Regions from separate parts of the Homo sapiens genome. Here region 2 is reported to be linked to region 1. The links are microRNA targets in miRTarBase. Many come from high-throughput screens and were not tested one by one. Region 1 holds a microRNA gene; the other region holds the end of a gene's coding sequence.
Evidence for each region. The annotated mature microRNA hsa-miR-3666 reads CAGUGCAAGUGUAGAUGCCGA and lies in region 1 at 3,825-3,845, opposite strand. An mRNA with a match to its seed (bases 2 to 7 or 8) in the 3' UTR can be bound and repressed. Matches are read on the target gene's strand: a 7mer-m8 pairs with bases 2 to 8, a 7mer-A1 pairs with bases 2 to 7 and ends in A, and an 8mer does both.

Region 1 (7,122 bases):
CCTGTTCTTCATTATCAAAAAACTCATATCACCTCTGTCATATTTACCACACATCTTTTGTCATAAATAGCATCCAATTAGCAAAATTTTTACGCAGGGCAGCACATAAAAAGATTTCTGCCATACATTTAAATGGTATTCACAAGAGGTAATCTGTGGTCCTTTTTACTTTATACAGTAGGCTATACAACCAAGCAAGAAAACTAATTCTAATTGTTCTGTTTCTCTATAAAGTAACTGCTGAGTGGCTAAATAGAGAATATTCAGCTTTTGTTTATAATTTAGTAACACCTGTCTTTTTAAATCCCAAATACACTTCTTAAGATAAACCTTTTTTTAATGGGGAGAAAATGATGTGTACAGCATTGATTGATCTTTCTTTGTGGATTTGTTTTACACATTTAGTCAGTAGAGAGATTTGTTAGGGAAACAAAAATTAACATATGCCAGCTAATTGTTCTTCTTTCTTGGGCAGCAGCCAGAAGAAGCACATTAGCAGTCTAATAATAACGACTGGCACCCTGAAGGCATCCCCAAGTGCATCTGTTCCCAATAAACCACAAACTGTTATTCTGTTCATACTCTAAGCCAGCAGACTGGGTAGGGAATTCTTTGTTACGTACATAAATGAAAGCTGAGATAATGCTCCTAAATGCTGCATTTAATACATTTACAAAGCCACTGGTGTAAGCTTCTCTGGGATGTACAAGAGCACCTCTGCATAGTTTGAGAAACGCAGAAACATCCATATGCATCTGTATGTGACTTTGCAAATATTCTAAAATATCAACATCAGAACATATACATAACAATGTTATATTTAGAAAATATCAGCATTACATACTTGTATGTTAAAAATATGAAAAGAAAAGAAAAGTATTTCCCCATACATAAAAAAAAAAAACTCAGCTGGATGGTTACATATTCACTTTTAGAATTGCAAACCAGAACAAAATGGCACATTCAGAACCCAGAAAATACCAAATTGCAAATCAATGAAATATCTATCCTGATGAATATGTGACAGGACTCTGTACATTTTACCAACACATTAAAAGTTATCAAAACAGGAGAAATACATCTTTTTCAATGCAAACCACTCATGTTTACAATGTTACGGTAACTTATTCTGCTATCCTGTAATAATAAGCATACCATGTTTGTAGGCGTACAATCACAAACTGATAAAATAGAATTTATTATTAACTAAAGGGAAGCATGTAAAAGCTAGGATGAGCACTTAGCCACCTCGACTCATCTGAATATAGTCAAGGTTGGGTGAAACTCATTATTCAGGACTCGCAGCCTTGATAACTTTGATTTTCATCCATCCATAGCATGGCCAAAAGGTACCATTTAATGAAGTACCATTCAGAGAGTAAATGGGGTCATATAATAGACAGTGCGGTTGCACCTTGTGTTCATGTACTGATAGCTGTTAAGGGTGCAGTGATGAACCAACAGAGCTCATTTCTCCTTGGTAATAAATTCATGCTATTAATATTTATCAAATGTGTGGGCCGTCTCAACTGAGCCACTGCACATGAGACCATAAATCTCTACTATCATATCAATTTTGAAGCTTCTTTTGTACAGTGTATAAATTTTAGGGTTTTTTTGAGGGTTGTGAGTATTGACCACTCTTCTTTCAAACCGATCTGAGGCCAATAGTGCAGTTCCTCACTTCAGATATCGCTAGTTCCAAAGGGAACTTTAAACTGTGGTTTCATTTTAAATCGCTCATCTAAGATTCTGTATTAATTGCCCACCATCAAACGCAATTAGCAATTCTTTCATGTGTGGTTTATGTAATGTAATACTTCAATTACATTATTCATTCAGGTTCTGTTTTGGATTATAGGCTGAAAATTCTTTATTAGTGTAGATGTAACCATGCTGCTGGAGTTTTAAAAAATTTACTGATTGAATAATTAATTGGAAAAGAACAAGCTGCAGATTCCTGATGGATTTATGAGACAATTATTCTGTCTTGTGATTATCTACATTATACTATAGAAGCAATGAGGGAAAAAATCTTATTGAAAAGATAGTCATAAATACATGATCAAAAATATCCTCAAAAGTTTATTTTTTAATTAAAAACTCAGACATTTTAGAGTTTAAAAAGTAGTATGTCAGATTCAAAAAGATACATGTCTTTTTTCTTCCTATAAAAATGTTTTTACAGTACTCTACCTTTAAATACAGTACAAAGGAAAAGCAGAAATAGCTTAGCAGAGTTTAAATATAATCTCTACCAAAAAAGTAAATTTTGAATGATATTAATTGATAAGAAATATCGAGACATTACGAGAAAATTAGACAATATAGTCGTCTTCTGTCTCCTCCCCAACTACAAAGCCAAATGTTCGTTTTTTACCTAAAGAAATAGAGGGAGAGGCAAGACTGGCAATCATTAATCATCAGGCTATACAGGGGCCTTATTAAAAAGTATCCCACAAACTTTCATTAAACTAGAGTTACCCAGTTGATTACTCTAAGTTTCTGTGCAAACATCAGCTGAATGAGATAAAGTATATTCTTTTCAACAGTCTGTGTATCTGACTACATTATTAGGTTGAGCTTAAATCTCATATATTTTTGAGGGAAACTAGTCTTAATTTTCTATAATCACCCACTTCTTTTTGTGATAAGCTCTCTAAATTAACATTATGTATAATGTACAATAAAACATATCAATATGTGAAATACATCTTAACTGAAATAACCAAAGAAATAGGACAAAATTGGCTATAAAAATACCATGACCTTTATGACAAAATATTTGATAAAAATCTATTTATATGTATCTTATGATTGATCTGCCTTCTTCAGCACACCACATACATTTCTATTTGTGATTTGTACGTTACTACTTTTCAGGTTGCTCAAAGAGGGTTTCCTTTTAATATCTGTAAACCTATCACAGAAAGAAATTCTCTCTGGCTTCAGCCCCAAGGCAGTGATTTGTGCACTGATAGGTGTACTTTGTTTAGTGTCACCCATGGTGTAGATTGGATAGATTTTGTAAAAGATAGCATTACTTTAAAAGAAACATACAATTTGACAAGCGATTACATTTTACTTTCATTTTATTGCCGTATTTTTCATCACACTCATTGTTTTCTAACTGTCACTAAATTGTTCATTTTCTTAGTCTGTTACATTGGTAGAGCTATTTACTGTTTATAAAGCAATATGCACTTACAGGTTTGGGAGATGGTTTGGGCTCTGAGGGTCGCATGTGCAAGTGGGTCATCATTGCTTGAAGACGTTCGCGTTCTTTAGAAAGCTGTTAAGAAAGAGTGAGATCAGAAGCGTTTTAGAAATGACTGATACAGCTATTTTATTGCAGTGATACATCTTATCATTGAGCTTGCCTCAGAATAATGATTCCTGCATGTAAAAGTCTGCGTCAGGAGGAACTTATCTGGGAGGAAATGCAACTTTAGCTATGGAGGGGGAAAAACTTTTATAGCTTTTCTTATGTTAAAAGGTCAGAGAAAACAAATAACACTTCATCTTTTTGTCAATAAGAGAATTGAGGTCACAGTTGCCTCGACAGTAACAAGTTACTGAAACCATAAATTAGAAGGCCCATGGTGTCTCTTTAAAGTCCTGTGGACACTGTTAGCAATGGACTAGTGCCAACAGCTGTGAAGGGGTGAAGGGTTCTCAAAGCAAAGTGCCTGCCAGGATTGTCTACACACTTCATGCATTCCCACTGAGGTCCAGTTAGTGCCCCCTGCAATCTGCCATCATCAATCTAATTCAATAGAGTGACAGAGACCAGGCAGTGTGAAACGCTGAACTCTGCCACGGAGTCGGCATCTACACTTGCACTGGGTCTCATTACAACTGACGGACCTTACTTTTCCATCAGTCAGACACAGCAGAAGGAAAAAAAAAAAATAGGCGTAATTGGTCACACCGAAGACTGTATCATCAGCTGAACTCTTATGTTTTAGTCTACCTTTTATAAATGGTAAACAGGTTTATAAAAAGCTTTTTAAACTTTAACAGTGATGGTGCTTTTTGTGTTCTTGATTATTTTACAAGTCAAAACAAAATATTTTTAGTAAGCTCTCTGAAAAAAGCAATGACACGAATTTGAAACAAGATGTAATAAAATATGAAGAAAAATCGTATCTTTAAATGAAACAAAGTATTAGTTTCATTGAGAAAAGATCATCTTTAAGATGAAATGTTAGAGAAAGCCTTAAAGGCTTAGTAAAACATAACAAGAGTCAGACTTTGGGTGACATAATTGCTTTCTGATTAGTTCTATGGATTCTATTTACTTCTGGCCAAATTCTGTTTCAACATTAATAGAATTTTTTTTAACTTAAAACAGTCGCATTTGATACAACATGTGTGTATTATCATCTGTGATATAAATTATCTGCCTTTAATCTAGCTAAAGAAAAGTATAAAGATTTTTTTGCAAGTTCTTTAATTAAAATTACACTAGAAAAAGAAAAGAAAAGGTTATCTTTCAGGGTGTTAGTTATATTACAGGCATGATATTGTAAAGACTGGTCATTTGCCACAATATAAAATCTCATGGAAAAAAATCAAGGTTAGCTCATGTAAAAACTCTCTCTGTAATAAAATCATATCTAATTGGGAGTTTGGTCTAACCTGCATTGGGAAAAACTTAGATCTGACTACTTTGGGATATTCAAATTCATATGATGTGGTCTAAAAGTTATAAAAATATAAGTGATAAGTACATTAAACTACAGCAATCCTTCCTGGGTTATCAATAATTGCCACTGTTTAAAACAATCTAAAATATCATGTATCTCCATTAGTATTGAATGGCTAAGACAGTAAAATGCAGGCTGAAAGACCCAGAATCTGCTCAGTACTCAATGTAACACACCAGAAATCTAAGAAGAGTCCATTAAGTGAGCATTTAACAAACCTGTATTTCTAACTGTTGCACCACCTGCATTTGCACTCGACACTGAGCAGTGCTTCGGTCATCCAATGCGTGTTCATTGTTAAGGTGCCTAAACAAACAGAAGACACAAAACAGAATGTAAAGTGATGTCGATCTTAGTGGCATAGGCTACACTTAAAAAGCACTACACTGAAGTCAGATGTTTCTGTGCACTGGGAAAACAGAAAGCCTTGAAACCATACAGATAAAAGTTAAAGCTGCTTACGTGTTGTGTGAAAATTATTTATGTAATGTAAAGAGACTCTTCAAATGGCAGAAAATGTCACTGTCTCTAAGCTTACCTGTTATTACAAAAAATATTTCCCCAGACCATTTACAGAGTTATAGTAGAAGTCATATTATTTATGCCATTTTTTTAAAAAGAACAGCTTACAAATCTATGAACCAAAAGCAATTCTGAAGAGAACAAAGGCAATTTTCTATTTCATTGTTAGAACAGTTTGTTGTTTCTATGATGTATTTTAGTGAGCAATGTTTTATTTCATTGGGATGTGGTATGAATTAGGTAAAGATGGCAAATTATCTCCCGTGGAAAATCAATATTTATGAAGAATGATGATTTGCTGTTAGTAATAAAGAACTTCATTGAAGATTTTGATCATTAGAATAACAAGATTGACATTTCATGTCCAGTGTTCTAACTAGGAGACATTTGTCCTAATCTTATTTTTAAAATGGTGAAAAATAAATCATTCCAAATGATCTCACTCTAACCTTGAATATGCATTAGTCTACCATTATTATTTCTATACGATGTTTAAAGAGATCTCTTTAATGAGTGGTATGTTAATACACCAAAAGTAATTTAGTAAAGCAGCATCTCCAATGAACATGAAAACATTTAATAATATATACTCTGTAATTTGTAATACATAATGTCTTTGATGCTTCCCAAAATTAAAGAAAGTAATCTTCAAGTAATTCAATATCCTTTAGTGTATCTATTTCACCAATGGGCAAAGTAAGGCAACAATTTCAGAGATGTTCTCATCATTGCATATAAGTGAAATGGCATATTGAAAAGAAATTCACAAAATTAAATAAGAATTTATATATTTACCCAAGTGGGCTCAAGTATCATTTAGAATGATATAATAGTCTAAAAAGTTTATAATAGCCCTGGGTATACTGAATTCAACAAATATATTTTTGTATCCATTCAAATTATTTACTTTTATTTCTTGAAGATCACAGTGAGGCAGAAAAAATATAAGACACATACATGTAAAACATATGAAGAGTAATTAAAGTCGTGTTGCTGATAAAAACTAATTTTATTATAAACAAAAGGTTTATTTGTTTATATACCTAGGTTCAACAATCAGAAACCTTTGTTTTGCCTATACCTTGATAAATTAAACCAGTTTGTTTTAATACTTCCTTATTGATCATAACAACAAAACCTCCATGTATCTTGTCACAATGTCAGTCTTGGTTGAAGAGAAACTGTGGACTAAAATAGCAAGGTGGATAAGGTCAAGCTGAAGGAGTGTGGCTGGAGTGCAGGGGAGGCACTTCCACTATACCTGTCTGCTCTCTAAGCTCAGCTCAGGTTTGTTCTGCTGTGAACCTGTGAGGAGGATTAACATTCACTCATGCTCTCTGGGAAGGAGGTATGGAATGTGAGAGTAAGCCAGAGGTTAGTTAACAGAAAGTGTCACCAATTCCTAAATAACAAGACTACATTTAAAAATTGTTTCCCAGGGTTTTTTCCCCCAAAATTTAAATGAACAGTAAGACAATTTTCTACCAGCATAATACAGTTGTGTGTTGTATTCTTAAGGCTTCATATTGCTGTGTTTCCGTAAGATTTTTTTTTTTTTCACCATGAACTCTTGGGGAACACAAACATATTTATTCCATATAAGAAAAAATGTTGCATATTTTCAAAAATGCTTCAGTTATACACTGAGATTAGGGTGTAAATGCAGGAAGCAAGATAAGTAGAACATACAGGTCTGCAATAAAAGGCATAGTCACTATAACATTTTCTTGTGAAATCACTTTTTAAAATGATTTTCTACACTTGTTTACTGCTTAGTGATAATCATGATCTTATATTTAAAGAACTAAAAAAAGTACAAAATGTTTGCTTTATATACTTGGGTCTTAGAGCCCTATTCAATTTATCTATGCAGCTTTTATTAGAATAGAGA
Region 2 (7,122 bases), not on the chromosome of region 1:
AGGTTTTCCTGGAAGCTGACCTTATGATGATGATGTGAGTACAAGTAGTTTATCTGGGAGGCAAAGGGAACCCCAGTAAGAAAATGTAGCCAAAAAATTAAGGGTTACAAAGCCAGCTACCACTGTGACGGACAGATGCTTGATCTGGTGAAGAAGCTCTAGGCAAAGTGTAAGTATACATGTAAGAGTTGGCACACCCCAGGCAGGAGCGGGGACCATATTTACAGACTCTGTGTGTCACTGATTGAAAGCTGCTTCCCAGGTCTTAACTTCCTGGCACTTCTGGCTGCCACATACTGGGGCAGGGCTGGCTTTTGACAAGAGCCCTCAGATATGTCAATGTGGGATGTACAGTCTCGGGGAACAAGTTACCAAGAGTGGCCTTTTATTTCCACTGTTCCTACCATGGCAAAATCATGTCAGTCATTGATGTTGGGTTCCCACTTACTTTCCAACCCTCCCCAAACCCAAAAGCCTGGGACACTGATACTCCACCAGCCAGAGGTCATGTCAGTTGATGACATGAATGACAGTATAGGGCAGGTGCAGCTCAGAGTGAGACAAATTCTTGCCAATCATTCTGACGGGGAAGGATGACTCTGGAACTAGCAAGAGAAGCACTGAAGGATGCCTTTCCTGACCCTCACATCCAACAAGGGCCTCCAAATCCTCGCCTTCCTGATCCATTTGTTGTTGTTGTTGTTGTTGAGATAGAGCCTTGCTTGGTCACCCAGGCTGGAGTGCAGTGGTGCAATCTCGGCTCACTGCAACCTCCACTTCTCAGGTTCAAACGATTCTCCTGCCTAGGCCTCCCGAGTAGCTGGGATTACAAATGTTTGCCACCACACCTCGCTAATTTTTGTATTTTTAGTAGAGATGCGGTTTCACCATGTTGGTCAGGCTGGTCTGGAACTCCTGACCTTAAAGTGATCCACCCGCCTTGGTCTCCTAGAGTGTTGGGATTACGGGTGTGAGCCACCCTGCCTGACCCCATCTCTTTTTTGATAACACCTTCTGGTAAGGCGGCTCCACTTATGGAGGAGAAGGAATCATTACACACAGCTGGAACGAGATGTGCTTCACAGTCCTCTTGGAAACTGCTTTAGAAACTTCTCACTGCCCCAGCTTCCTGTAGCACCTCCTGGAGGCTGGCCAGTGTCAACTAACTTCTGGAAAAGCAGTTAACCATCCCTATATTTGCAGCCAACAAGGTAACTCTAATTGTGTCAAAGGATGTCAAAAAAGCCTCCAAATATGTGAAAATAAAAATAAAATTCTTTTTGGAAAGAAAACATTTTGGGAGAGATGGAAAGGGAAGTGATTGTGAAATGGTAATATGGTAGCAACTCAATGATTACAAATTCTAAACTTGCAATACTGCCCTGAAGAAAACAGTTCATATCCATTTAGCTTGCTTGGTATACTACTACCTAGAATGGGCATCTTAAAAAAAAAAAGAAAGACTAATGACATTTAAGGCCACTATTAGAGTGAAGATCCCACTTACAGGGGCAGATACCTGCCACTCTTTGGACTTTCAGAGACCCTGTCTTCCACAAGTATCTCAAACTAAACGCAAAAGTTTTTTTTTTTTGAGATGGAGTTTCACTCTTGTCACCCAGGCTGGAGTGCAGTGGCACGATCTTGGCTCACTGCAACCTCTGTCCCAGGTTCAAGCGATTCTCGTGCCTCAGCCTCCCGAGTAGCTGGGACTACAGACGTGCACCACCACGCCCAACTAATTTTTGTATTTTTAGTAGAGATGGGGTTTTTACCATGTTGACCAGGCTGGTCTCGAACCCCTGGCCTCAGGTGATCCACCTGCCTCGGCCTCCCAAAGTGCTGGGATTACAGGCGTGAGCCACCATGCCCGGCCTTAAACACAAAAGTTTTAACATTTATTGAAAAATTACTGAGAAACTTTATACTCATTTAATTCAACCTTAATAATTAAGACACGCCGGCATGAGGGCCGGGCGTGGTGGCTCACGCCTGTAATCCCAACACTTTGGGAGGCCGAGGTGGGCGGATCACGAGGTCAGGAGTTCGAGACCAGCCTGGCTGACATGGTGAAACCCCATCTTACTAAAATACAAAAAATTAGCTGGGCATGGTGGTGTGCGCCTGTAGTCCCAGCTACTTGGGAGGCTGAGGCAGGGGAATCGCTTGAACCTGGGAGGCAGAGGTTGCAGTGAGCTGAGATCGTGCCACTGCACTCCAGCCTGGCAACACAGCAAGACCCCATCTCAAAAAATAATAATAATAATAATAAAGACAACTCCATGAGATAAGTGTTATTCTCCCACTTAGCAATGAAAATATCCAGATACAGAGAACACAATTAACTTACCAAGCTTCCTATGGTTAATTACTGGCAAACCTGATACTTAACCACCTAAGTGTAACTCCAGATGCTGGCTCTTCATTTTTCTATTGCTTCTAACATTAGCACCTTGCCTTCTGACCCTCTCCCTTTACTCTTCCACAAGGTATTTAGAGATCCAGTAATTCAAAAGTGATTGTCAGTCCTTTTTTAGTGTATACTTTAATTTTTAGGGTTTTTTGTTGTTGTTGTTTGTTTAGATAGGGTCTGGCTCTGTCACTCAGGCTGGAATGCAGTGGCACGATCACAGCTCACCGTAGCCTCGACCTTCTGGGTTTAAGTGATCCTTCCACCTCAGCTTCTCAAGTGATTGAGACCACAGACGTGCGCCATCATGCCCGGCTAATTTTCTAATTTTTGTAGAGACAGGGTCTCTGTATGTTACCCAGGCTGGTCTCAAACTACTGGGCTCAAGCGATCCTCCCACTTTGGACTCCTAAAGTTTTGGGATTAGGGGCATAAGCCATGGCGGCTGGCCTGTGTATATTTTTAAACAGCAATTTTAAAACTTCTTTAGAACTTATCTTGGCATTAGTTTTTTTCGAGACAGAGTCTCACTCTGTCGCCCGGGCTGGAGTGCAGTGGCACAATCTTGGCTCACTGCAACCTCCACATCCTGGGTTCAAGAGATTCTCGTGCCTCAGCCTCCAGAGTAGCTGGGATTACAGGCGTGCACCACCACACCCAGCTAATTTTTGTATTTTTTATTTTTATTTTTTTTGAGAGGGAATTTCGCTCTGTTGCCCAGGCTGGAGTGCAATGGCGTGATCTCGGCTCACTGCAACCTCCGCCTCCCAGGTTAAAGCGATTCTCCTGCCTCAGCCTCCCAAGTAGCTGGGATTACAGGCATGTGCCACCACGCTTGGCTAATTTTTTTTTTAGTAGAGATAGGGTTTCTCCTTGTTGGTCAGGCTGGTCTCGAACTCCCAACCTCAGGTGATCCGCCCACCTCGGCCTCCCAATTTTTAGTTTCTAAAATTACTTTTGATCTCTAAAATTGTAATCAAACCTACTAATATAAAAACCCAATTGAGATTCACCAACGAACTAGTCGCAAAATGTTTTATTTGTAATAAACTTAAAATCGTCCCTTCTGTTCACACGCTGGTCCTTTTCTCTCCCACTTCTTGCAAGGCCTTCAGAGCTCCTCCCCAAAACTAAGGAGGTGCTAAAGGATGTGAGAAAATGACAATCCAGAACATTTCTGAGTGGGCTTAGGTGTTCACTGAGTAAAAACAGGATTTTGGGGGAGGCAGTATAGGCAAAATGATGTTTCTTAGATGTTAGCTTATTTTTAAAAATTGTTTTTTGTAACCTGATCCAATAGCTATTCCATCACGCTTTTTTTTTTCTTTTGACAGTAGAGATGGGCACGGGGGAGGGTCTTGCGATGCTGCCCAAGCTGGTCTTGAACTGCTGGCCTTGAGTGATCCTCCTGCCTTGGCCTCTCAAAGTGCTCGGATTACAGTGTAAGCCACGGAACCCAGCCCCATCATGCCTTTAAGTGTTCAATGCACAGAATAGATAGAGGCCAATAGTCCATTTCAATCAGATTTTAAAAAAAGTAATGCAAAAGATGGGAGAATTTATTGCTGACTGTTACTTATTATGCAATAATTTACTTTAAAATACTTCAAATATAAACTGTGTAATGGATGTGTGCTGTGTAATTTAACTTCAATCTTGTTCTGGGGGTAAGTTAGTATTTGAAGCACCTCAATCAGGTGGCTAGGAAGATGCTTTAAACACTTATCTAAATATACGCCAGAGTGTTCATCAGCATAAGGGATATTAGTAATTTTTCACTGATGAATGCAGCCTGAAAAGTAGGTGGTTGTCTAGACTTTTAGAGGCAAAATGCATGAAATGAGGTGTAAGAATCTGGCAGATCCTGCAAAATAATGACTTTTTATAGTATCTCAGGTCTAGAGATCTCCTTGCCCCTGTACCTTCCCCCTCCAGCACTCCACACACGTTTATGACTGTGGCCTGATCCAACCAAGCAATTAGGTTTCTTAATTCTGCTTTCAGAATATCACTGCTTCTGCTTCACTGTGAACTTTTTAGTCAAGGTGTTTGTGGGGTTACTTAGGAGCAGAGAAAGAACTTCTCCAAGCTTTCCAGAAGCCCTGCTTGCTAATAAACTTGTCATATAGATAACTGTTTTAGATTTGCTTTTATAGTAACACACCACGAGGTGGTGCGGTTATGTAGGAGGACACATATAGCCTTACTTTCCTGTAATAGCTAGAGGTACCACCAAATGGACCTGTGATTGGTGACTAAATTGGCCTAGATAGTTTGCAATGGTGTAGGAAGGAAACTAAAAGCCCATTCACTCTCATTTCATACTGAGGGCCATATTTGATTCCTGAGCGCTCCCCTTAATGTAGGGTGAATACTGAAGACCTCCTTAAGGTCTGCAAGTAAATATAGATTTTTCCAGTGCTGGCCAAAAAGCAAGCCAGCCATTGTAAAGGTCAGGGTCATTCTCTGGCAGCGCTGCTCTTTAACACAATATAATTAAGAATTTTGCACCACTTCTAATTAAAACTTGATTACTTAGAAGGCTTTCCGTTTGCTAATGATGACTAAAGTTTAAAAACACACATGAAAAAGAAAAACAGCCAAAATACACCTACTGCTCTAAATTTTAAATAAGGCTATCCTATATGCTTAATCAACAGGAGGCTAGGAAAATGTCACTGAGTTAAATGAAGGACAATCTGAAGACTCAAGAATCAATCTGAGTGAAGTTATAACATATGAGAAAGCTAAAAGTAAAACTATGTCAAACATTTTATTTGGTGTTTCATGCTATGTTGATTTAAACAAATTAAACAAGTTTGTTGAACAGATTTCTTTTCTAATATAATGACTATGTGTACATGGACAACTGAAAACAGGGAAAACCCCCAAATTAATGTTTTCACAAATTACAAGCCATTACTAAAGACCATATGCCTGGATTAAAAAAAATAGTCCAATAGATGAAGTCTCTCATTCAACCTAGCAGTTCAACCAATTTCTCTTTTAATAAAAGCTGCACATTACAGTGGTATAAATTTATCTTTTAAACACTCCACATAAAAACATGTGCACCCTCTCCTTCTACATTTAATCATTAGTAGTCTCTAAAATGGTAAAATAAAACTGAATTTATATTAGCAAATGAAAGTGCAAGTTTGTACAGCTAGGCTCAGCAGCAAAAGTGAAGAATAAGAATGAAAGGTGAAAAGCTGACAGATGCCACGCAGAGCAAGGACTTCCATGAAGGTCCGTGTCCTGTGTGCCAAACACAGTCAACATTCCATCATTTTCTCATTGCTCTTAAACGAGCAAAACCAAATTCTTTTTCTATTTAAAGAAATATTAAATCTTTATTTTCCCCAACATAATTTGTGATCAGGTAAGGCAAAGATAAGTCCACCATCACTGGGGACAGCAGCAACATACAGACTTCAGAAATAGCCCTGAATCATCAGTAACATTCTATCGTGGTAACATCAGAAGGAATGCAGCTAACAAATTAAATTTGTAATGTTGTCACATTATTCTAATTTATTTGATTAGTTTATCTGGAAAAACTTTATAAATACATTATGTAAGAGGGCAGTAAATTATTTTCTTGCTTTGAAAAAATAATGTTTTTTCACATTTTAAAACATTTTAGTCTGCTTTTGCAAAAGGAGTTGCAAGAAAAATGTGACAGCTGGGTTTGCAGAATGTCCATGTACAAGCTGTATTTATAAGAACCTGGTAATCTGCCTATAATTTGCTTCTACAAATAGAGCTCTTTGCAATAATATTTTAAAAAAACAGGCTTAAACTCTTCTCCTATTCATTCTACTTGTAGAACAAAGAGGTACTTATTTTTCAAGTATTATAAAAGGTAAAAAATTTTTTTTGCCAATTTTACATGTTAAGCTTTTAAGACCAAAAAAATCATGCCTAGTCAGCCCATTTCTTTTATAACCAAATTCTCTTGTCTTTTAAAGAATGCAGAAAAATATTGATTGCTAAGAAGGAGCACACTGGAAAAAGCCATTTTAAAGTATTGAAGAATGAGACGTATTTCTTTTTTCCTATTGATGAAAATTATTAGAAAAGCTATCCAGTCTGTTGTCTTTAGCTAGTTTTAATAAATCTTTTCAAAATGATGGTCAAGAACTCTAGAAAACGGGTGGAGGGGATGCTCCTTTATAGCAGGAAAGGAATTCCATTAATTGTAGAAATTCTCATTAAATTTCAGCTTTGGTTCTTCAGAAGAAACACTCATATAACTTCTACATGAAGAGACAGAAAAAGAACAAGATTAATATGACATTTATCTAAAATCTTATTTCAAGAATACCATAGTAATACCTTAAATTTCTAAAACTTACTATACTGTTATATACACTTATATAAGAATAGGCAATTCTGTTAGGATTCACAGTCTTATATTTAAGTGAATTCTGTTACTCATAGGAAACATATGTTCTTTTCTTTACATCAGCTTAGGCCACAGCCTTCATTTTTCCAAGTGGCATACACAGATTGTACTTTTCTCGGTTAGGGGTTTAAACATTCATTTCTCTTGTATCCTCAGTATCTGATGCTTAGGGTTCTAAACATATGTTGGAGGTTAAATAAATGTTGATAAATCATCTGGAAGTTCTTTCCCTTCCTGTAAATCTGTAACATGAGTAGGAAGCTGCACTGGGCATGTTTCCATCAACATACCATTAGTCGGATTG

Region 2: miRTarBase lists MAP7 as a target of hsa-miR-3666. Seed matches in the 3' UTR shown: 7mer-m8 at 5,560-5,566.

Annotation. Positions count from the first base shown.
Region 1 is chr7:114,650,096-114,657,217 of GRCh38, reverse strand. MIR3666 (microRNA 3666) reads right to left here and starts at 3,873; the gene lies at 3,763-3,873. FOXP2 (forkhead box P2) reads right to left here. Exons shown (of 17, transcript NM_014491.4): 9 at 4,928-5,015; 10 at 3,209-3,292. RefSeq lists an enhancer at 900-2,164.
Region 2 is chr6:136,337,570-136,344,691 of GRCh38, forward strand. MAP7 (microtubule associated protein 7) reads right to left here. Exons shown (of 18, transcript NM_003980.6): 18 at 5,165-6,669. The coding sequence ends at 6,659. Among named protein-coding and RNA genes, the nearest start is that of BCLAF1, 51 kb to the left of the region's middle.